5 separate regions of the Homo sapiens genome follow, and regions 1, 2, 4 and 5 are each reported to be linked to region 3. The links are microRNA targets in miRTarBase. Many come from high-throughput screens and were not tested one by one. Region 3 holds a microRNA gene; each other region holds the end of a gene's coding sequence.
Evidence for each region. Region 3 holds the annotated microRNA hsa-miR-324-3p (CCCACUGCCCCAGGUGCUGCUGG, at 1,288-1,310, shown strand). A microRNA usually pairs through its seed, bases 2 to 8, with sites in the 3' UTR of a target mRNA and lowers its output. Matches are read on the target gene's strand: a 7mer-m8 pairs with bases 2 to 8, a 7mer-A1 pairs with bases 2 to 7 and ends in A, and an 8mer does both.

Region 1 (4,128 bases), not on the chromosome of region 3:
AAAATTCAAAACTTAGCCGGGTGTGGTGGCATGCACCTGTAATCCCAGCTACTCAGGAGGCTGAGGCAGGAAAATCGCTTGAATCCGGGAGATGGAGGCTGCAGTGAGCTGAGATCATGCCACTGCACTCCAGCCTGGGTGACAGAGAGAGACTCTGTCTCAAAACAAAAACAAAACAAAAAAACCTGGCCTTATGACTGGAGAATAGAGTTGCAATGGTATCTGAAATGGTGAAGGGTCTCTTGAATATTGGTTATTTCCAAAATTTGAATTGTTTCTTCATACCCAATCTTCTCATGCAGTTTGTAAGAACTTGCTTTTATTTCTGCTGCTCCATCTTGCTTGTAGTCACTACTATAAATGTTACGTGGATCAAAGAAATGGAATGTCTTGATTTCCCTGAGAATTGACACATTATGTACACATGTATGTAGTATTTCTACTGATAATGTATACCTCACTCAACACAAATAATCAGGCTGGGCACCGTGTCTCATGCTTGTCATCCCACCACTTTGGGAGGCTGAGGTGGGAAGATTGCTTGAGGTCAGGAGTGTGAGATCCTGTCTCTCCCCCCCTCAAAAAAAAAAAAAAAAAAAAAAAAATAGCCTGGCACGGTAGCTTGCACCTGTGGTCCCAACCACTCCATAGGCTGAGGTGAGAGGCTCACTTGAGCTCGAGAGGTGAGCCAGGTGTGGTGGTGTGCACCTGTAGTCCTAACTACTTGGGAGGCTAAGGCAGGAGGAGTGCTTGAGCCCAGGAGTTCGAGGTTGCAGTGAGCTATGAATGCACCACTGCACTATAGCCTGGGTGACAGCAAGACCCTGTCTCAAAAAACAACATAAAAAAAGGAGGCTGGGTGCGATGGATCACCTGAGGTCAGGAGCTTGAGACCAGCCTAGCCAACATGGCAAAACCCCGTGTCTACTGAAAGTACAAAAATTAGACCGGGCACAGTGACTCAAGCCTGTAATCCCAGCACTTTGGGAGGCCGAGGGGAGTGGATCACTTGAGGTCAGAAGTTCAAGACCAGCCTGGACAACGTGGTGAAATCCCGTCTCTACTAAAAATCCAAAATTAGCTGGGTGTGGTGGCAGGGTGCCTGTAATCCCAGCTACTAGGGAGGCTGAGGCAGGAGAATCGGCTTGAACCTGGGAGGTGGAGGTTGCAGTGAGCTGAGATCGCACCACTGCACTCCGGCCTGGGCGACAAGACTGTCTCAAAAAAAAAAAAAAAAAAATTAGCTGGGTGTGGTGGTGCGCACCTGTAGTACCAGCTACTCAAGAGGCTGAGGTGGGAGAATTGCTAGAACCCAGGAGGCAGAGGTTGAGGTTGCAGTGAGCTGAGATCACACCACTGCAATCCAGCCTGGGCAACAGAGCAAGACTCCATCTCAAAACAAAAACCAAAAGAACAAACAAAACACAAAAAACCAAAAACAGTAAGTTGGTGTAAGAGGGATACCGTAAGTTCTTCTTGGGACCTAAGCAAGTACTTACAATCACTAAAGGGAGGCTCTACTAAAGAATAAAACCAATCATTTCTTTTTGCCTTTTGTGATAGTTAATTTTATGTGTCAGTTTAGCCATTGATGCCATTTAACGGGTTAAACATTTGTCTCTCTCCAGAAGAGATTAGTATTGAATTGGAGATTGCTCTGCTTTGATGTGAGTGGACATCATCTAATCAGTTAAGGGCCTATATAGAACTGCCAGAGCTAAGACATCCATATTCTTCTAACCTCGGACTAGGACACCACTGTGTTCCTGGTCACTGAAATTTTACCCCAACAGCTTTCCCAGCAGTGGACTGTGGGTGGGACCTCGGTTCCATAATTGTGAGCCAGTTTCTTTCTTACAGTAAATCTTATTCTAGATATATATCCTATTGGCTGTAGGAAATCTCCATATACCTTCTTGCTATTTATGCTATTAGCTTTACTGATAGGTGACTGAAATACTGTGTCCACCCATACCCAAGCAACTTCTCCCTCCTAATAGAACTCAAATATATATTTTGCTTGGGCATTTGGCTCCTCTCTCTGATCCCAAGGATGAATCTTGACTAGCATTAAGCCAGTAGTTCTCAACTGGAGTACTTTGGAAATCCTGGAGGGCTTTTAAAGTTATCTTTAGGAGACAGTAGAGGCAGTGGGCAAGGGCCAACCAAAAATGCTAAAAGTTATTTTCCAACACACCATATAACAATCCTTCATAATCCTACAATGTTCCCATTGAGTGTTCATGTGGTTGGAAACCTGAGCCTAGAATTTTTCACGAATCCCAAGAATCTTTTACATGGGTGTTAACAAGCACTGAATCTTCCAAAAATGTTGTCTAAATCACTTCCTTCATACTTGCAAATTAAATTGATTTCTTATACTGATTTTTGGAAATACAGTAATCTCATTTCTACATATTACAAAACATTATAAAAGGAGCCATTGTGTCTGATATTCTAAGCCCATCTTGATAACAGACTCTTTTGAACATGGCATATGACATTCATCCATGAAACATAAGGGAAATGTGCTGGAAGACTTTTGGGAAATCTTAACATTGAATAAAGATGTAGTTGCCTTTCTGCTCAGGTTGTCAGCACATGATAATTATTAGAACTACATCAGAGAATTTGGGACAAGCCAGTACACTGAGGACAGAAAAGCAGAAATAGGGAAAGAAATCTGGGTTCCTTTTATTTTTGAGCCATAGAAATAGTATCTTAGGACTTATTTCTAGATGCAGTTTCTTTAATGTAAGCCAATTCTGGTTATTTCTACTTGGAGCTGAAAGCAACCTGAAAATAGCCACCTTGGTTTTCATGTTAGAGATCTAAAAACTTTCATGTTAGAGATCTAGAAACTTTCATGTTAGAGATCTAGAAACTTTCAAGATTCTAAATGTACCAAAGGTCTAAGGGGAGAAAATAAAATCCTTCAAACAAGATTTGCACATGCTGATACTGCTCATTATTTCATTATAACAGCCCTTCCAAATCTTGAATTTGCATTTTTAACCAGTGTTAGCAAATCCTGTATTTCCCTCTTTGGGAAATATGGGAAGCATGAGCCATGGCATATTCTTGAAGCTAAATCTCAGGGCATCACCCCTCACAAACAAGAGATCAAGATGCTTTCTGTATTTATTTAAAAAAAAAAAAATTCCAGAATGGGTAAGAGAACAATCATCAAGGATGTAGGTGCCAGACACAGGGCAGAAGGTAGCTAGAAAAGTATGCCTTAGGGAAGTTAAAGGTCTAGCCTCATTCCTACCTTGTTTTAATAGCTGTACCTAATATAAATAGCTAAGTTTCCCATTGTTCTAGATTCCTCTGCCCCATCTACAAACATGGCACAGCCAGCTTGACTTGCAAGGCCTCAGTTGAAGGACCCCATGTACATACAGGCCAGTACAGCAGTACTAGGCTAACTAGAAGGATCTCATCCCCATATGTGGTCTCATTTCAAGTCTATGGATGACTACCTTCATTGCTGTGTGCGAGATGGTTTCACCCCTTGAAAATATGGTCACTTCAGCATAAAATAGTTAAATCTTTATAATGATCAATTCATCCTACCTCCTTTTACATGCAGCTGAAAAATGACAGGCTAGGGACATAGAATATTGTGAACTTTATACTGTTAGAATCACTGTCCATTAAATGATCACTAGCTAATGGTCACTAAATTTACAAATTAAGGAAATTATATATAGAATACTGCAAAAACACAGTAAAAAGACTGAAGTTCGCCCATTTCTGCTCAGGAAGTCTCTTCACTCCTAAGCTTCATATGTTGTCCTTCTGGCTTCAAAATTTCTGCTATTATTACTGTTTTTCCTCCTTTTGATCTTCCTTTTGTTCCCCAGTGCCAGAACTTCCAGAGCCTTCTCGCTCAGATGCCATCTGTTAAGAAAACATTTGAGAGCCACTCAGATTTAACGTTAGAGCTAACCATTTGCTCTTTGTTGCACTCCAAGATGAGGGACCCACATATGTCCTCATCATTCATTTCTATTCCACTCCCCCTCCCCACTTTCTACCCTACTGGTGGTTTCTGGATTCCTTCCCTTTGACACTAACTCCAATGCCAAAGTAGAGTCAAGACGGCAGGAGACTATCTCCCAACTC
Region 2 (4,142 bases), not on the chromosome of region 3:
GCATTCGAGCGCCCGGGGCTCCGGCTCGCTGCTCCCGCCTCCGGCTCCGGCTGCGGTTCCCGCGCCCCCGGGCCGAGCGCAGGCCGCCGAGGGCCGCGGGGGTGGCTGGCGGCGGAGCGGCCCGCGGGCCGGGGCATGCTGGCGGCGGCCACCGGCGGCCGGCGCGCTCCGCTAGGTGGGCTCGGCCCCGCCGCCCCTCCCTCCCCTAGGCGCCGCCGCCGCCGCCGCGCTTCGCTCAGCTCCCGCCGCTCCGCTGCTGCGCCGGGCGGCCGGGGGCGGGGGGCGGAGCAGGGCGCATGTCTCCGCCGGGGCCTCCGCACCGCCCCTCGGCCCGCCCCGCCCCCGCCCGCTCAGAGGCGCGGCCGTCTGTCGGTCTGTCAGCCCGTCCGTCCTTCCGTCAGTCCGTCCGTACGCAGCCCACCCGTGTCCCCGCGTCCGCCCGCGGCCGGCCCGAGCCTCCCTGGGCTGGTGGCGCCTCCTGACAGCGCCGCGCCCCTGGCTCCCAGCTCGGCTCGGTGCACACTCCGGACGCCGCCTTCGGACGCCGGGGCAAGACCCAGGCCCGGAGCTCTGGGGGCCCGGGGGCCAGAGGGAGCTGGGGCAGGAATGGACACTGAGAACCTGGGGCCAGGGCTGGGGCTCAGGGAGACCTTCCTGGAGGAAGCCGCATCTAAGATGAACAATCGGGGCGGGGCGTGGAGAGGACAAGGGACGCATGGCCAGCGGCTTCTAGGAACCGGGAATCCAGTCTGAAGCAGGGGCAGCGAGGGGCAAGGTTGGGCCAGTTACGGATTCACGCTGCTCCCCGGGCCTGGGGGGTCCACTGAGGGAATAAAGTGCACGGGCCACCGGGCTGCCGAGTGGTCCCCGCCACCCCCACAGGCTCAGAAATTGTTCTCTCTGAAACTCTGAGCACCACCGCCCAGCCGGGAGAGGCCAGGGTCTGCAGCCCAGCGCCTGAAGCCTTCTCCTACTCCCCTCCTCCCCTCCTCCCATTCTTCCCGCCCCTCCGCCCCTCCCTCCCAAGCCCTCATGCTATCACCACTCCTCATAGAGCACAGGCTGTCACCCACAGACTGACAGCCTCAGCTGGCCCCATGCAGGCGGAAAGCCTCCTGCTTCTTGATGGGGGCCCTGGAGAGGACGCCTCCTGAGGATCGTGCCTGTCTTTTCTAGAAAGCACCTGACCACACACACAATGGGCACAAGGCCTCTGGGGCTGCCTGGCATAGTGTCCTTCCGTGCCTCTGGGACACATCCATGACTAGGCACCCCTGTGTCTGGAGGAAACTAGGCACCCGACCAGGAGGAGACCCAAACCAATTGCAGCCAAAACGGATGCTTGGAGCTTGCCCAGTCCGGGCAGGGCTGCTCCACAGCCTGCACCTGCCTAAACCGTCCCCACACCCCAGGTCCCTGAGCAGCTTTTAGGGGGCCCAGGATGGGTCTTAGGGTCCGTCCCATGAGACAAAAAGAGGAGTGTCTGTAGAGAAAGGCCCCGCAATAACGTGTGGGGCTGAGCAAGGGGGAATCTGGGGCCATGCACACCTATACTCCCTGTGGTTTCTCGGGCAGCCAGGGCCCTCAGTGTCCCCAGTGAGCCCTCTGTGGACAGGTTGGCTCCCCCTCCAGGTGGTCCTGGTTATAAATAGGCCACCAGCAGTGGGAGGCTGGCACAGGGCAGCTGTAATCAAGGGTGGTGTTTCTAAGTGTCTCGCCTGTGACTCGGGGTGAAACGGTAGAAACGCCACACTTAATTACATGGCCACCGAGAGCCATGCCGCTTAGAAACACCACGGTTAAGATTGCACACACAGCCATGGAGAGCCATGCCTCTGTCTGGGCCTGGCTCCCCTCTGCCAGCCCAGCTGACCCACTGCCTGGACCAGTGCCTCTGCCCGGCCTCAGCTGGCTCTAGGGCAGGTGGGAGATGGCCTCTGATGGCCGCCCCGGGGCCCTGGCTTATTTCGTGCTGTGCTGGGTTCTGCTGCAAAGTGCCCGGTGCCCCTGGGAGGCGGTTTTCAGGTGCCTGGTTTGCCCAAAGCCACACGGATGAGTGGCTGAGCCAGGACTGAACTAGGGAGTCTGATGCGGGGCCCAACTTCAAGTGAAGGGTGTGGGTGCTTTGGGGAACTGGTCCCCTCAGTGAGCCCCTGGGCTCAGGCACTGCTGTGGCCAGCCCTGGGCCTTCTGCTAGCTGGGAAGGGTGGCCTCCTCATTGCTCTGAACCCAGGGCACCATTCTGGCATGGGTCATGGGTGGAGCTGGGGGCCGAGGCTGGCTGAGGCCAGCCCCGGGGGGCCAAGGGGCATGGTGGCGTGGCAGAAGCTTCATGTGGCTGAGCTTGTCCCTCCCACCTCCAACCCCCTCCCAGACAGGAAATAACCCCGTCAGCCGTGACTGGGGCCCGGGACAGATTCCCAAGCTCTTGGCTGGTGTTTCTGCACATCTGGAGCCGAGTCCTCGCTCTCCAGGGGCCAGAGGGAGCCTTGTGCGAGGCCGCAGCTGTTGACGGGCCAGTCTTCTCCAGGCGGCAGGACAGATGTTGGGGCTTCAGGGACAGACTGAATTGGGAACATTCTCCCAGATGCCACTTCTGGGTGTGCTTGATTGGAGGGCCTCCTTTTCAGCCATGGATGCAGGTGGGGTCCTGGTCCCTGTAGTGGCCTTGGCTGGGCCAGATGCACAGATCAACCCTGCTACACCGATACCCTCACCACACACGTGCTCACAGATATGCAGACAGATGCACACGCACATGCACAGATATGTCAGTGACACGTATGCCCACAGCTTCACACCAACGGCACTGACACACATTCGTGCTGTCCCTCAGACCCCTGCCCTATAAGCCATCCCAGCAGACTCCTGCCTGAGTGGCTGGGGGAGTTTCCACGTCAGGCACAGAGTCCTGGCGCCAGCTGGGGGGCTCCTTCAGACAGGATTTTGGGGTGTCTAGGCAGTTTCTAGCAAGAGGCTGGGTCAGGGTGGGGCTCCCACACGCTGAGCCAGGCCACATTTGGCTCTTCCCACACCATCACCTCGCTGAGTCTTTCCCAGCAGCCCCACCCTGTTCATAGGAAAGCCACACAGGCTCAGAGCCGGCATCCTCTGCAAGCCAGACAGGGGGGTTGTGGGGTGCTGGCACTCCCACCAGGCAGCGTGGCCCTGAGCCCACATCCTCCCAGCATCTGGGCTGCCTATGAGGTCCAGGGAGCCAGGGTGTCTGGGGCCAGGACACCAAACCAGGGACCCACGGGAAATGGGCATTCATAGCCAGCAAGTCACCAGCCGGACACCAATCGGTGTGGCTGTGCCTGAGGTTCTAGGGTACATGCAGGTGCTGGTGCTGGGAGGGCTGAGACTGTCCACGGGAGCCCCAATGTCCCACACCCCCTGGGAAAGCAGCCCCCCCAAGACAAATGACCACCCAGGACACGTGGGTCCAGCCAAGCAGCAGCTTTATTAGTGGTGCTGGGTTCTTCCCATACCCTACAGCGTGCTCGGAAGCATTCCCGAGGGTTTCTGCCCAACGCCTCCCGGCGCTCGGGACAACACTGTGTAGCATTGATACTGGAATGATATAAATAAAGCTTTGGTGTGTAGGTTTGCAGGAGAGAGTACAGGTTAACACTGTGATACGAAAACTTCAGACAACACCAGCTCTCAATGTGAATTGGGTTTTTGGCCAAGGGGGGAACTTCTAAGTGACTGGACACTGGGCCCGTTGCCATGGCTACTCGAGGCACCAGTGGCAGGAGGAGGGAGTCTAGGGCTGAGGCTCCGCGTGGCCCTGTCGCTTCGCCTTCATCTGCAGGTACCGCCCTTTGCCTTCCTCAAAGCGCTTCTTCTCGTCCTCGGTCTCGGGCTGTGGACCACACACAGAGACAGGCAGGTTAGGGTCACTGCAGAACCAGTGCCGTGGCCTTGTGACCTGGCCTGGGGCCCTGCCCCCCACCCGTGGGATCTGCCCCACCCCTGGTGCATGCTGAGTACCACGCCTCGGCCCCGCTGGCCTCCTGGGACTGCCGGGTAGCCCAGGCATGGGGCTCATGTCCCACCTCGCTGATGGGCCTATTGACTGGGCTGGGTATGTTCAGCCAAGATGCTTTGAGGGGCCGCAGGAGCCACAGGTGGCAGAG
Region 3 (4,000 bases):
GGGGGTGGGGGCATTAGTCTCAAGGAGAGGAAAGGGAGGGGCGGAATGGTGTAGAGCTCACTTACTGACAATCCCCTTCTTGTGTTTTATCAGCTTGGCCTCCACCACAGTGGCAAACTGCTCCAGAGCCCGTACTGCCTTAAGAGATGGGGACAGTGCGGGGCTCAGAGGGGCCATCGGCTGCAGTCCCTGATGCAGGCTCTCCTGGACCCCTGGCCACTTACCAGCTCGCCACTCCGACTCAACTCCGGGTGGACAAGTCCGCTGAGACTCAGGCCGCTGCCCAGCCCTGCCCGCCTGAGAGGAAGAGGGAGAATGACTGGTTAGTTGCCATACACCACCCTGCCCTCCCCTGGCTCTGGCCCTAAGCCTACCGCCTCAGCTGTTTGCCTGCCTCTCCTAGCAGGAGGCCAGCATTCCCAAAGGGATTCTTTAGAGCACTGCCAAGCCCAGAGAGCTCCTTTCCTTTGTCCTATGGGGGAAGAGGGTCCAGCAGTCAGGACTCACTGTCCTCCCCACCTCTACCCCCACCCAATTCTCTGTCTTACCATACAGCCCTGCAGAGCCACAAACAGCCGAAGAATGTCATTTGTCCCCTCAAAGATCCGGAAGATGCGAAGATCTCGGAGCACACGCTCTACTCCAGGTTCCTAGCACAGGGCCACACAAATTATATGCCCGTGCTGAGATGTGCCTACCCACCCCTGGCCCAGCCGAGGCTCTGCAGAAGACCGTCCTGTACCTTCATGAAGCCCATACCCCCCATGATTTGGATGCATTCATCTGTCACCTTCCAGGCTGCCTCCTAGGGACAAAGAACAGATGAGACTGGTTTTGGGAGCTGAGCACCCAAACTGGACTCCCTCCCAGCATGCCTGGGACCTCACCGAGCCAAAGATTTTGCTGATGGCGGCCTCTATCTGGAAGTCCGTGGCTCCCTGGTCCATGTTAGCACTCACCATGTAAGCCATGGACTGAGGTTGCATAGTTGGGACATGGGAAGGAAAATTGCAAAGGGCTTTGTCAGACTTGGCCTCATCACCCAGATCTCCAAGATAAGGGCTGACCTAGCTTGTCAGGTCAGGCAGATACTTGTTCTGGGTCAGTTCATCAGGTGCTTCCAGGTATTTGTTTTCTTAAAAGGGGTGGATGTAAGGGATGAGGTAGAATTAACTTCTGGTACTGCTGGCAGGCACCTGAGCAGAACATCATTGCTGTCTCTCTTCGCAGAAGCTGAGCTGACTATGCCTCCCCGCATCCCCTAGGGCATTGGTGTAAAGCTGGAGACCCACTGCCCCAGGTGCTGCTGGGGGTTGTAGTCTGACCCGACTGGGAAGAAAGCCCCAGGGCTCCAGGGAGAGGGGCTTGGGAGGCCCTCACCTCAGTTACATACTGCAGCATAACCATCCGTGCCAGCTTCTCCTGGATCAGCCCAAAGTTGTGAATTTTCTCCCCAAACTGGGTACGATTAGTGGCATGATCTACCTGGAAGAGGGTCCACACATCCCGCTGTGGTTCAGTGTGGTTCTGCAGTCTCCCTAGGAGAGGGGCTGGGCTTGCGCCAGAGGGATGGGTTTTGCATACAACCAGAGTTCAGTCTACGCTGGATGGAGACCTAAGCTAGCAAGTCGGGCTGCTGGTAGGGGAGGAGTTTCTAGTGTAGGGAGTGCCTGCAAGTGATCAGGGACACATGGCAAGGGGGACAGTGAGACTTCTGTTTGGGTTACCTAGGGACTCGGGCAGGGTACTCACCGCCTTAGCAATGATGCCTCTCATGGTACCTGCCAGGGCCGCAGCCATGCCAAACCTTCCATTGTTGAGGATGTGCATGGCAACCTTGAAGCCACTCCCAACCTCACCCAGCACGTTCTCCGATGGCACCCGTACTCCATCAAAGAACACCTCTGCTGTGTTTGAAGCCTTGATGCCCATCTTCTTCTCAGGGGGCCCACTGTGTCAGGGCAGTGTGGGAAAGCAGAGGTGTGTTCAACAGGTTGTCACTGGGGGAAAAACTGCTCCTTCGCTCCTTATGCACCAGGGAGGAATGACGACCACTAGACTATTAGAGGCTACAGCCACCACTTCCCCTCAGGCCCTGAGGGCTAAGGAGGCCTGGCTATGTCCTATTTTGTGTTGGACTTGGTTGCTGGAGCCAAAACTTTAGCTCAGTTGCATACATATTAGTCCCAAAGGCCACATTCAGTCCACCTGCTTTGGCTTTTGCACACGTCCCCAGGGTGACTTGCAACAGCCATCTGCCCAGGAGCCCAGTCCTGCCCCTCAGTCCTAAGCTCCCCCAACCCAAATTCACTCACTGGGTAATGCCCCCGAAGCCCCTCTCCACCACAAAAGCTGTGATCTTCTCCTTCACGGCTCCTGTGGCTGGATCTGTAACTGGTGTCTTGGCAAAGACCGTGAAGATGTCTGCTAGGCCCCCATTACTGTGGAAGAATGGGATATTCAGGGCGTGGAGGACGGGGAGCAGTGGGGCCTGGAATTGGGCGGAGGAGAAGGGGAGAAATGGGAGGCAGGTTGCCTGATCCAAAGCTTGCTTCCATTGAGGGTATAGTATTTTCCACAGGGGCTGGGCACAGCAGAGGTTCGGATGGAGGCTGCATCTGACCCGCTTGAGGGCTCGGTTAGACAGAAAGCGGCCACAGTCTCCCCTGTTGGGGAGAGAGCTACTTTACCCCAAGTTCTGATGAGCTTCAAAGTCCCCTCGGCCCACTTCCCCATCCCTCCAGCAGGCAGTTCCCCCTTAACACCTGGGAGTATCCAGTTCTTTTGCATGTCCCAACCAGCACACTGTGATGCCTCCCCAAAACCTTCCCCCAACTGAAATGCTCAGCCATCTGATAATCTAAGTGCCAACTGGCCTAATCTGTGCCAAGCCCAGTGTGCCCCCCAATCCCTGGCTCTCCTAGGGTTGCCTCACCAGATGCCAGCTTGGGGAGGTATTTTTCTTTCTGGGCCTTTGTGCCAAAGAGCAGGATGCCTTTGAAACCGATGCTCTGATGGGCCCCCAGGGTAATGCCCACGCCAAGGTCATGCATGCCCACGATCTCCACCAAACGGGCGTACTGGAGGGGAAGCAGGAATCTGGGGTTGTCACTGGCTGCAGGGGGACCTGACCTTAACAGGAGAGTGTGGGCAACAGGGCAGTTCCTGACCTAGGGCAGTTCCTGACCTAGGGCAGTGCCTGACCTGGGCCATCCCCAGTGTGTAGAAAAGAAGTGGGGTGTGCAAAGGGCACAGCAGAGAATGCTGGTCTGTCTTAGGTCTAGGTAGGAGGGTGACTTGCTACTAGTCAGTCTATTGTTAGGCAATCCCCAACTTAGAGATTTGTAAGGACTTGGGAACCAGGGTGAGGCCCATGGCTCAGGCCTAGGGGACTGCATGTAAATTGTGTTATGTTTGGACAGTTAACATCCATCCCACAGGCACCCAGGGCAGGTGCTTAGAAGAGACCTTAGCCCTAGTCTCTAGGTCTATGGCAAAAGAGCTGAGTCTGCCAAGCTGGGGTATGGCATACTGGGATGTGGCGATAGGGCGCCCTCACCTGGGTGTTGCAAAGGCCCACACCACCCAGCTCACTGGGCACTTGCAGACCAAAGGCCCCCAGCTCCTTGAGGCCCTGCCAAGTGGTCTCCTCCACCATCTCCAGAGCGTCATTCTTGGCGGGATCGTTCACTTCCTGGGGAAGGCACAGGATCCCACATCCAGGCTCCTTTTGAGCTTAACATCTCCAAACACCTCACCAGGGACCAAGCCCCGAGTCATTCCTTACCTCGAAGAAACGGGACACAGGCTCCACCAGCTCTTTAAGAAACTGTGTCTGCTCTTCGTTGAGCACTGCAGAGGGTGGGGGACAGGCTGGTCAGGCCAGGCTGGCAGGGGAAACCACCCTGGCCCCACCCAGCTCTGATTATCCCTTCCCTTACCGGACGGGTATGGGAACACCTGATCTGTGGTGAGCTGGCCTTTGAACATTCCCACAGCA
Region 4 (4,142 bases), not on the chromosome of region 3:
TAACTTGGAGTTGCTGCCCAAGATGCAGCTCAGCTCCAGTGGCCACACCAAGACGGTTTAAGACAGAGCGGAACCAGGGAGGTTGTTTTTGGTGGCTGGGGGCTTGGGTTTGAGTTCCTTGAACAGCAGAAGGTGCTTGGATTTAGGGAGGTGAGGCTGGGAAGGGTTCGGGTATGAGAAAGGAAGCTGAAGTTCCCTGGCGTGGGTGGCAGGAAGGGCTCTAACCCTGGGGCGGGGTGTGAGGGCCGTGGCCGTCATGGCTGTCGAGGCCGAAGGAGAGGGATTCTGAACTCGGGACCCAGGGCTTGGGATGGGGTATGAAATCTATGTCTTGGGTATGCCTCCTCCCCCAATCTTGCTCAGGCTCTAATTGCCTGGACGAAGAACCCCGAGCTGTCTGGCCGGCCTTTCACAGTATCCGACCGGGGCGTCCTGGACCGCCGCCAGCTCTATCTGACCACCTCGGCGCGGGACTTTCGGTTCTATCCCAAGTAAGCCGGGCTCTCGCTCGGCACCGCCTCCTGCACAGCCCCCGCCGTGGCCGGTGCACGCCGAGCCCCTGGGCTGGCTCCCATTCCCTGAGCCGGTGGTCTCAGCCTCGACTTCTGTAGCAGCAAGAACCAAAGTTCAGGCCTCAGCCCCTCCCTTTTTTTTTTAAGCACCCAGGAGTCCTTAGTGTCACCTCTCAGGAACCGCGGTAGGGACAGGAAGCCTGCACAGCGGCTCGAGGGGATTCCGGATCTGAGGGCAGGGCCTCCTTCGGTACTTGAGCCCCCAGATACTCCTTCCCAAGGAAGCGAAAGTCCCCTTTTACTTCCCTAGGATGCGAAAGCTCAGTTTCCAGGACGTTAAGTACCTCGAGGACCCAGGAACGCAGGCAACGCGTGCCGGGTCGCGTCCTTCCTAAGGGGTGCTCGCCTGGAAATGCAGGAGTTTGAATGTGCAGACTCCTTAGATCCCGAGGTCTGAAACTCGTCCCCAAGGATCCAGCTGTATCCTCACCATCCCGCCCTGCTCCCACAGGACGGAGCTGTCCGGATACCCCCGCAAGGACTCCCTGACCTACTGGAGCTTCGAAGAGACGCCCCAGGTCTGGAGCCACGGCCCGCAGCGGCCGCCCTGTCCGCGCTCCTCCCGGCCGCCCCGACCACCGCGGGTCCGCGTGCCGCGCGTCAGCCCGGTGACCTCGGCCATGCCGCACCGGGGAGCCCTGTCTCTGGCTCAGGAGTCCTACAGCCCCCTGCTGCACCCGCTCCGGCGGCTCGACCGCTTCTGCCCGCTGGAGGCGCCCTGGGGCGGCCCGCACTGGAAGCCCCTGCGGGGCATCTACAGCGTGCCGAAAGCCTACAGTACCGAGAACTCCAGCTATGGCAGCTTGAAGCCGGCGCTGGTGTGAGCCGTCAGGGCCAGCCCCACCCCAGACCCGCCCCCAGGGCCGCGCTGCCGAGCGGAGCTCGGGACCTCCGCTCACTAGGAAGGGTTCCGGACCCAGCCTGAGTCGCACTCATTACGTCTATTGGCAACGTGGGGGCGGGACTAGCCCAGACACCCACTCAGCTGCGGCATCACGGAGAGGGGACTAAGTCCAGATAATGTCCTTGCAGGCTGTGGCCCCGGGGGCAAGACACGCACCCTGCGGGCGTATTAAATAATGAGTTAAATCACCTGAACCACACCCACTTCCGGGGACGCTCCGGGCATCCTGGCTTGAGGGTAGGGTGGGCGGAGGTCCCTAAGGGAGAGGTGGGGCTCGGGCTTAATCCCTCCTTGGGGGCATCTGGGTCAAGTGGCTTCCCTGGCAGCACAGTCACGGGGAGACCCTCTCTCACTGGGCAGAAGCTAAGTCCGAAGCAGCGCCCCTCCTGTTAGGTTGGACTGTGGTGCAGGAAAGCCTCAAGTGGAGGGTTGAGGCTTCAGTCCAGCACCTTTCTCGGGTCATGGCCTCCTCCTGGCTCCCAAGACCCCACAATTGGCAGAGGCAGGCCTTCCTACACCCTACTCCCTGTGCCTCCAGGCTCGACTAGTCCCTAGCACTCGACAACTGGGTCTCTGAGGTCACTTCACCGTGGTCTCTGCCTCACCTCTGGCGCTAGACCACTGAGGGGAGAGGGCTGGGGCGCTCTGCTGAGCCACTCCTGCGCCTCCCTGGCCATGTGCACCTCTCGCCCCCGGGGGGATTAGTGTCCAGGTTACCCCAGCATCCTATCACCTCCTGGTGGCCTTGCCGCCCCCACAACCCCGAGGTATATAGCCAGATACACGAGGCAGGGGATGCACCAAGGATGGAGATGCTCCAGGTAAGACTACAGGGCCCCTGGGCACCTTCCACCTCCTTCCAGGCCATCACTGGCATGAGAAGGGGCAGACCCGTGTGAGCTGTGGAAGGAGGCCTCTTTCTGGAGGGGCATGACCCCCAGTAAGCTTCAGGTGGGGCAGTTCCTGAGGGTGGGGATCTGAAATGTTGGGGCATCTCAGGTCCTCTGGGCTGTGGGGTGGGCTCTGAAAGGCAGGTGTCCGGGTGGTGGGTCCTGAATAGGAGATGCCGGGAAGGGTCTCTGGGTCTTTGTGGGTGGTGTACCACGCGGGATGGGAAGGCCAGGACTCGGGGCTGCGGTCTCAGACCTGGGTGAAGCAGTGTCCTTGTCCCAGGGGCTGCTGCTGTTGCTGCTGCTGAGCATGGGCGGGGCATGGGCATCCAGGGAGCCGCTTCGGCCATGGTGCCACCCCATCAATGCCATCCTGGCTGTCGAGAAGGAGGGCTGCCCAGTGTGCATCACCGTCAACACCACCATCTGTGCCGGCTACTGCCCCACCATGGTGAGCTGCCTGGGGCCAGGGGCAGATGCTGCCACCTCAGGGCCAGACCCACAGAGGCAGCGGGGGAGGAAGGGTGGTCTGCCTCTCTGGCCTGCGGTTGGGGAATGGGGTGTGGGAAGGCAGGAACAGAGGGCTTCCTGGGCTCCTGAGTCCAGGACCTGTGGGGTCAGCTTGGGAGCTCAGCTGAGGCGCTGGCCTCAGGCACATGCTCATTCCCCCACTCACACGGCCTCCAGATGCGCGTGCTGCAGGCGGTCCTGCCGCCCCTGCCTCAGGTGGTGTGCACCTACCGTGATGTGCGCTTCGAGTCCATCCGGCTCCCTGGCTGCCCGCGTGGTGTGGACCCCGTGGTCTCCTTCCCTGTGGCTCTCAGCTGTCGCTGTGGACCCTGCCGCCGCAGCACCTCTGACTGTGGGGGTCCCAAAGACCACCCCTTGACCTGTGACCACCCCCAACTCTCAGGCCTCCTCTTCCTCTAAAGACCCTCCCCGCAGCCTTCCAAGTCCATCCCGACTCCTGGAGCCCTGACACCCCGATCCTCCCACAATAAAGGCTTCTCAATCCGCACTCTGGAGGTGTCTTTCTGTGGGCTCAGGGCAACCACACATACACAGGGTGGGTGCAGCTTCCCAACCATTTTATACAGAGTCACAGTGTCAGAACTCTGGTGGAAAACAGGGTGGGGTCGGGGGATGACATCCAACTCAGGAGGTGTCCATGGTCTCGCCTTCTGTGGGGAGAAGGAAGGCCACATGGTCAGTGTCGCCCAGGTGGCAGGGCCTGAGCCTTCTACGCCGAGCTCCCTCTTCCTCCCTCTGAGGTTGGCTCTGGCAGTGCAGGTGCGGGGTGGGGATTCTTACTGAGTTCGTTGAAGAGGAAGGCGTCCTGGTACTCCTTCATGTACTGCGTGGAGCGGGACTCGTCCAGGAAGAGTGAGTAGACCCGCTTGATGTCATCCACCTGCACTTCTGTACCCTGGAGGGGGAGGGCGAGTCCTCAGTTGGGCCCCTCTCCGTGAGGCTCAAGGCACAGACCCCAGCGTATGCCACCTCCATGCTCTAGGCAGCAGAGTGTGGCATGTGAGGGGAGGGCATTCTGGGCCAGATTGCCTGGGTTCAAATCCTGCCTGGCCATCTCCTTGTTGTGGGCCCAGCCTCTTCATTCCTCAGTTTCTTTATCTGTAAGGTGGACCTAACAGCATCTACTTAAGTCAAGAGAGATTTACTGATACCTACTATAGGCCAGGCTGGATGATACAGAAGCCAACCTGAGGGATGAAAATTCCCTGCGTCTGAAAACGTACATTCTAGGATGAAATCGGAACC
Region 5 (4,142 bases), not on the chromosome of region 3:
TTGCCGAGTACTGCAGGTAGGTGGTTCCCTGCACCCTCTGGCTGGCCTCTTCCCTCAGGCTCCCCAGGCATATTTGGGGCTGCTTGGAATTCCCCGAGAGGATCTCATTCTGCTCTCTACCTGATCTTACTCACTGAGCCTAATCTCCCAGAACTTACTTCCCTATTGCTTGCCTCTACCATCTGATATTTTTTGGAAGAAAGAAGAAAAATTGTGTTGCCACACTGAGGTAGAATGGTTGGAGCAGAGTTGGGGGGTAACATTACTGCTCTTGGAAAAAATTTAGGCGAATTGGCAGGCAAATGGAGAGAGGCCCTGGCAAGTGTGGTTCTCCAGTGACAGAGAAGATAGCCTGGTGGTTGGCAGAGCAGACATCATCCCTGGGATGGGTGGAGACAGTACCACCCCTTGGGGAGCTAGGATAGCCTAGCTCTCTGGGTCGGGTAGGGTAGGGTAGGGAAGGAATTGGTCTTCCTGCAAAAGTGGCTGGAGTAAAGACAGTGAATGGTATCTCTCTACAGGTTCTGTGCCATGGCCAAGCGCCGAGGTGAAGGCCTCCCCAGCCGAAAGACAGCACTGGTTCCCCCCTCTGCAGACTATTCCACCCCACCCCACCGCACAGTGCCAGAGGACACGGACCCTGAGCTGGTGTTCCTTTGCCGCCATGTCTATGACTTCCGCCACGGGCGCATCCTTAAGAACCCCCAGTAGCCTCCTCATGCCCATGCTGGGGCTACCCATGGGCAAGTGGGGCTCGGGGTAGGGGGCACTGCTTGAAGCACAGCACTTGGTTAGGGGGCCACAGAGGCCTAAGTTTGCTGGCCTGTGGTTTTCTTGGGGGGGAGGGCAGGGGCCCCTGTGGGTTCTGGGCTCCAGGGGAGGGAGCTGGGGAGGCCAGGGTATAAGAAAAGCATCAGAACTCTCAGCTTGGCCCAAGGTACCTTCTGTGGTTCCCCTGGGTGGAGATTTCCGAAAAGTAGTCTTCTCTGAGGCTGGGCCAAGCCTGAGGGAAATGGGGCCCTAGGAGGGTGGGGGCGGGAAGGAGGGGCAAGGTCTTTCAGGAACCAGACCCAACAGGCCCTTCTGTAGCCTCCCCCTTGCCCTCAAAGGGGGAGTGGGGGCCAGCTTTACCTCACCCACTGTGACCCGCCGCTTCCCCTTCAGCCTGGGACCAGGCTTTCCTAGATCCCAGCACAGCTCTGAGCTTGTTCCTTTGAGGCATAGAGAGCCAGAGTCTGGCTTCCAGAGCATTGACTTCCTCTTCCTAGACTTGAGGCCTTTTCTCTGGCTTTCCTCCTTTGCCCTGCAGTAGCAACTGGTGCTGGGACAAGTTGACCCACCTCTCACAGTCATGGGTGTGGCCCACTTGTGGGAGTCTCCTGTCCACCTCCCAGAGACGGCCACCCAGCGGGTCTGGCTTCCCAGAAAGTTAACTGATGATTGTGGGGTTTGTCATATCTGGGAGGGAAGATGGGTGCTGGGAGAGGGTTGGGGGCAGGGGGCAAGGAAAATTGCTACCTGATTTGTTGAAGATTTTTCCTCTTGCCTTACACATGGAGGTTCCAGGAAACCTCTTGCAGAACTTCACACGTGATTCTTCAAGCCACACCCACCTGAAATCAAACCAAAGGAGTGCTGTGGCTCCCCTTGCCCTGCCACCCTTTCCCTAGTCTTTTGTAGATTGCACTAATTTACATCCTAGCAAGAATCAACACTGTATCAGTCCACGGACCTGCTGAGCTGCAGCCACTTGCTCTAGGAGCTAAGGACTTGCATTTTCAGTTTGTTCCTGTTGCCCAGAGGCCCTGTTCTCACCTCATGCTGCTCCCCAGAGTAGACTAACAGGCTCAGTCCCCTGTTGTCCTTGTGGAGACTAGGCCTTGGCCCTGGCCCTGAGACTCTGTGAGGGGGCTGGAGCAGCCTGGTTATTTCCTATCTGTACCAAAGAGGAGTATGGTGGGAGAGGGAGTGGAGTGCAGTGTGGCTTGGGCCTGGTGCTGGGAACCTGCTAGCTGAGCACTTCCACAAGGGCATACCCCTGGGGGCAGGGGCTGGGGCTGAGAACTGCAGCCCTGGGTCTTCCCTTAGGGAGGAAGGGCAGATGAACCCAGCAGGCTTAGGAGGTGGCACTGGGTGAGGACAGCTGGGCAGGGGCTGCAGAGGGAGGTGGAAATGAACCCTGAGGGCTCCCCCAACTTGCCATGCCCTGTCCCTTAGTAGATGAGTTGCTCCTGATTGGTCATTGGGTTTGGGTGAGGCCTGGAGGCTTCAGAGGTGAATTTATGCTTGGGAAGCCTGATCCCAAACCTGAAGGGAAGGGACTTGGATCTCCTTATATTGAATAAGCTGTTTGGAGGAAGGTGTCTGTCTGGGAGGATGGGGCAGTAAATGAGGTTGGCAGAGTGGCAGTGGGGGCTCTGCAGAGCCAGCCTTGGAGCCTGCTCATTCTGGGCCCTTGCTGCCAAGGAGCCCAGCCTCACCTAGCAGGAAAGGAGATGAAGGCCCTCCTCCCAGGAGGTAGGGTCTTGGCTGCCCCGAACTTAAATGCTTTTGAAATCTCTTAGATGTGGAAATATTTTTTCGAACCTGAAAATGCAGCTGGTAGAATTTCAATGGAAGCATAATCCATGTAAAATATATTTTAGTTGATATTTTGTAAAATGCACTTTTTGTGTGTGTTGATCCTGGTTTCCCAGATCTGTATTTCAGTGTTTACAAGGGAGGAAGGACCTTTCCTCACCTCCCTTTTGACAGAGATTAGAAGTACTTCTTTAAGAAAAAAATAAATTTGAGAAATTGTATTGATTTAGAAAAGGATCGTTTCCTGTGTGTCCTGTCATCTTTTGGTGTGTGGGTGTGGAGAGACCCACTATTCTTATTTCAGAGGTCCCTCTTAACCCCTGTGGCATGGATGCTCACCAAGGCCAATGAGCAAAGAGGGCAGGGAAGCAGAGGGAAAAGAGAGTGAGGGAAGGAGACAGAGGGACTGGGAACTTGGAGTTGACTTCTTGATTTCATGGTGGCCACAGCTGCCTGCTTAGGTCTGTGTGAAATACTTCAGTTGCCAGCCCTCACCTGACCAGTGACCTGGAAATTGGTCCCCAAGTAGGTACATGGCAAAGATACCTTCTTATCACTGGCCTCATGCAGTGGCTCCTGCCTGTAATCCCAGTGCTTTGGGAGGCAGAGGCAGGAGGGTTACTTGAGCCTAGGAGTTTAAGACCAGCCTAGGCAACATAGACCATGTCTCTCGAAAAATTTAAAAATTAGCCCGGCATGTCAGTGCATGCCTATAGTCTCAGTCAGGAGGCTAAGGTAGGAGGATTGCTTGATCCCAAGAGCACGAGGCTGCAGTGAGCCGTGATCATACCACTGCAGCCTGGGTGACAGAGTGAGATCCTGTCTCAGAAAAGAAAAAAAAAGCATCCCTCCTCATCACCTTGGGTAACTGGCCAGCACTGTCCTAGGGCCTCAGTGTCTTGCAGCTGGTGCTTCTTGCTTGCTGAGGAAGGCCACATCATGGGGCCAAGGGTCTGCGGCCAGCTGACCCCTGCTTCAGCCCAGCCCTGGTCCCAGCCTGGAAGCCTCAGTGTTGACCATGTTCCAGGTGGGGCAGCTCTAAGGCCATAGAGGTTCCTGGGAGCCACAGCACCCCCCCGCCCCGCCTCCACTTCTGCATTTTGCTAAGGCATGGTGCATGTGGGCAGGAACATTTTTTCAGAATTTATTGGTGGCACAGACACCACCATGGATTTTTCTAGCTCTGCCTTCAGTGTGGTGTCCACAAGACTCCCTTGAGGCGAGTGGTAGCTTGTCCTTATCTTACAGACAAGAAATTGGTATGGAGATAAGTACCAGGCCCAAGGACTCCCCCTGCCTCACCCTGACTGCTAACACAGAAAACTACCCTGTAACACAGAAGGGAGCACATGTGGCCACATTATCAAAAGATTTTTAAAGGTCTAAGGCCTTTTTTTCCTCTCCTGGTTTAAAGGACATACTTACTGGAAAATATGATTTTAATAGAAAATCCTATCACCAGAAATGTATACCTTTAGGATTATTGGAAGCAAGGAGCAGTGTAGACAAGGCAGAACCTTCACGCAAACTTCTGGTGCAGCAAATGGACAGGTGGTAGCCTG

Region 1: the mRNA of HSPA9 is a reported target of hsa-miR-324-3p. The part of its 3' UTR that is shown has no 7-base or 8-base seed match.
Region 2: the mRNA of ACOT7 is a reported target of hsa-miR-324-3p. The part of its 3' UTR that is shown has no 7-base or 8-base seed match.
Region 4: the mRNA of RUVBL2 is a reported target of hsa-miR-324-3p. The part of its 3' UTR that is shown has no 7-base or 8-base seed match.
Region 5: miRTarBase lists BAHD1 as a target of hsa-miR-324-3p. Seed matches in the 3' UTR shown: 7mer-m8 at 2,406-2,412.

Annotation. Positions count from the first base shown.
Region 1 is chr5:138,552,212-138,556,339 of GRCh38, forward strand. HSPA9 (heat shock protein family A (Hsp70) member 9) reads right to left here. Exons shown (of 17, transcript NM_004134.7): 17 at 1,545-3,903. The coding sequence ends at 3,826. Among named protein-coding and RNA genes, the nearest start is that of SNORD63B, 4.8 kb to the right of the region's middle.
Region 2 is chr1:6,260,828-6,264,969 of GRCh38, forward strand. It overlaps ACOT7 (acyl-CoA thioesterase 7), which reads right to left. Exons shown (of 9, transcript NM_007274.4): 9 at 3,445-3,868. The coding sequence ends at 3,770. GPR153 (G protein-coupled receptor 153) reads right to left here and starts at 271. Exons shown (of 6, transcript NM_207370.4): 1 at 1-271. RefSeq lists silencers at 1-10, 191-510.
Region 3 is chr17:7,220,618-7,224,617 of GRCh38, reverse strand. MIR324 (microRNA 324) reads left to right here and starts at 1,239; the gene lies at 1,239-1,321. ACADVL (acyl-CoA dehydrogenase very long chain) reads right to left here. Exons shown (of 20, transcript NM_000018.4): 4 at 3,942-4,000; 5 at 3,788-3,852; 6 at 3,560-3,694; 7 at 2,936-3,080; 8 at 2,537-2,666; 9 at 2,316-2,441; 10 at 1,753-1,951; 11 at 1,381-1,485; 12 at 888-974; 13 at 743-805; 14 at 549-650; 15 at 375-472; 16 at 225-297; 17 at 66-138. RefSeq lists an enhancer at 3,781-4,000.
Region 4 is chr19:49,015,222-49,019,363 of GRCh38, reverse strand. It overlaps RUVBL2 (RuvB like AAA ATPase 2), which reads right to left. Exons shown (of 15, transcript NM_006666.3): 14 at 3,678-3,792; 15 at 3,394-3,547. The coding sequence ends at 3,522. LHB (luteinizing hormone subunit beta) reads left to right here and starts at 2,273. Exons shown (of 3, transcript NM_000894.3): 1 at 2,273-2,297; 2 at 2,650-2,817; 3 at 3,054-3,384. The coding sequence starts at 2,283. The coding sequence ends at 3,296. SAXO3 (stabilizer of axonemal microtubules 3) reads left to right here. Exons shown (of 5, transcript NM_001396011.1): 4 at 364-491; 5 at 1,024-1,396. The coding sequence ends at 1,396. RefSeq lists a silencer at 1,092-1,281 and enhancers at 525-1,448, 1,258-1,552.
Region 5 is chr15:40,465,420-40,469,561 of GRCh38, forward strand. It overlaps BAHD1 (bromo adjacent homology domain containing 1), which reads left to right. Exons shown (of 7, transcript NM_014952.5): 6 at 1-16; 7 at 522-2,817. The coding sequence ends at 711. Among named protein-coding and RNA genes, the nearest start is that of CHST14, 3.5 kb to the right of the region's middle.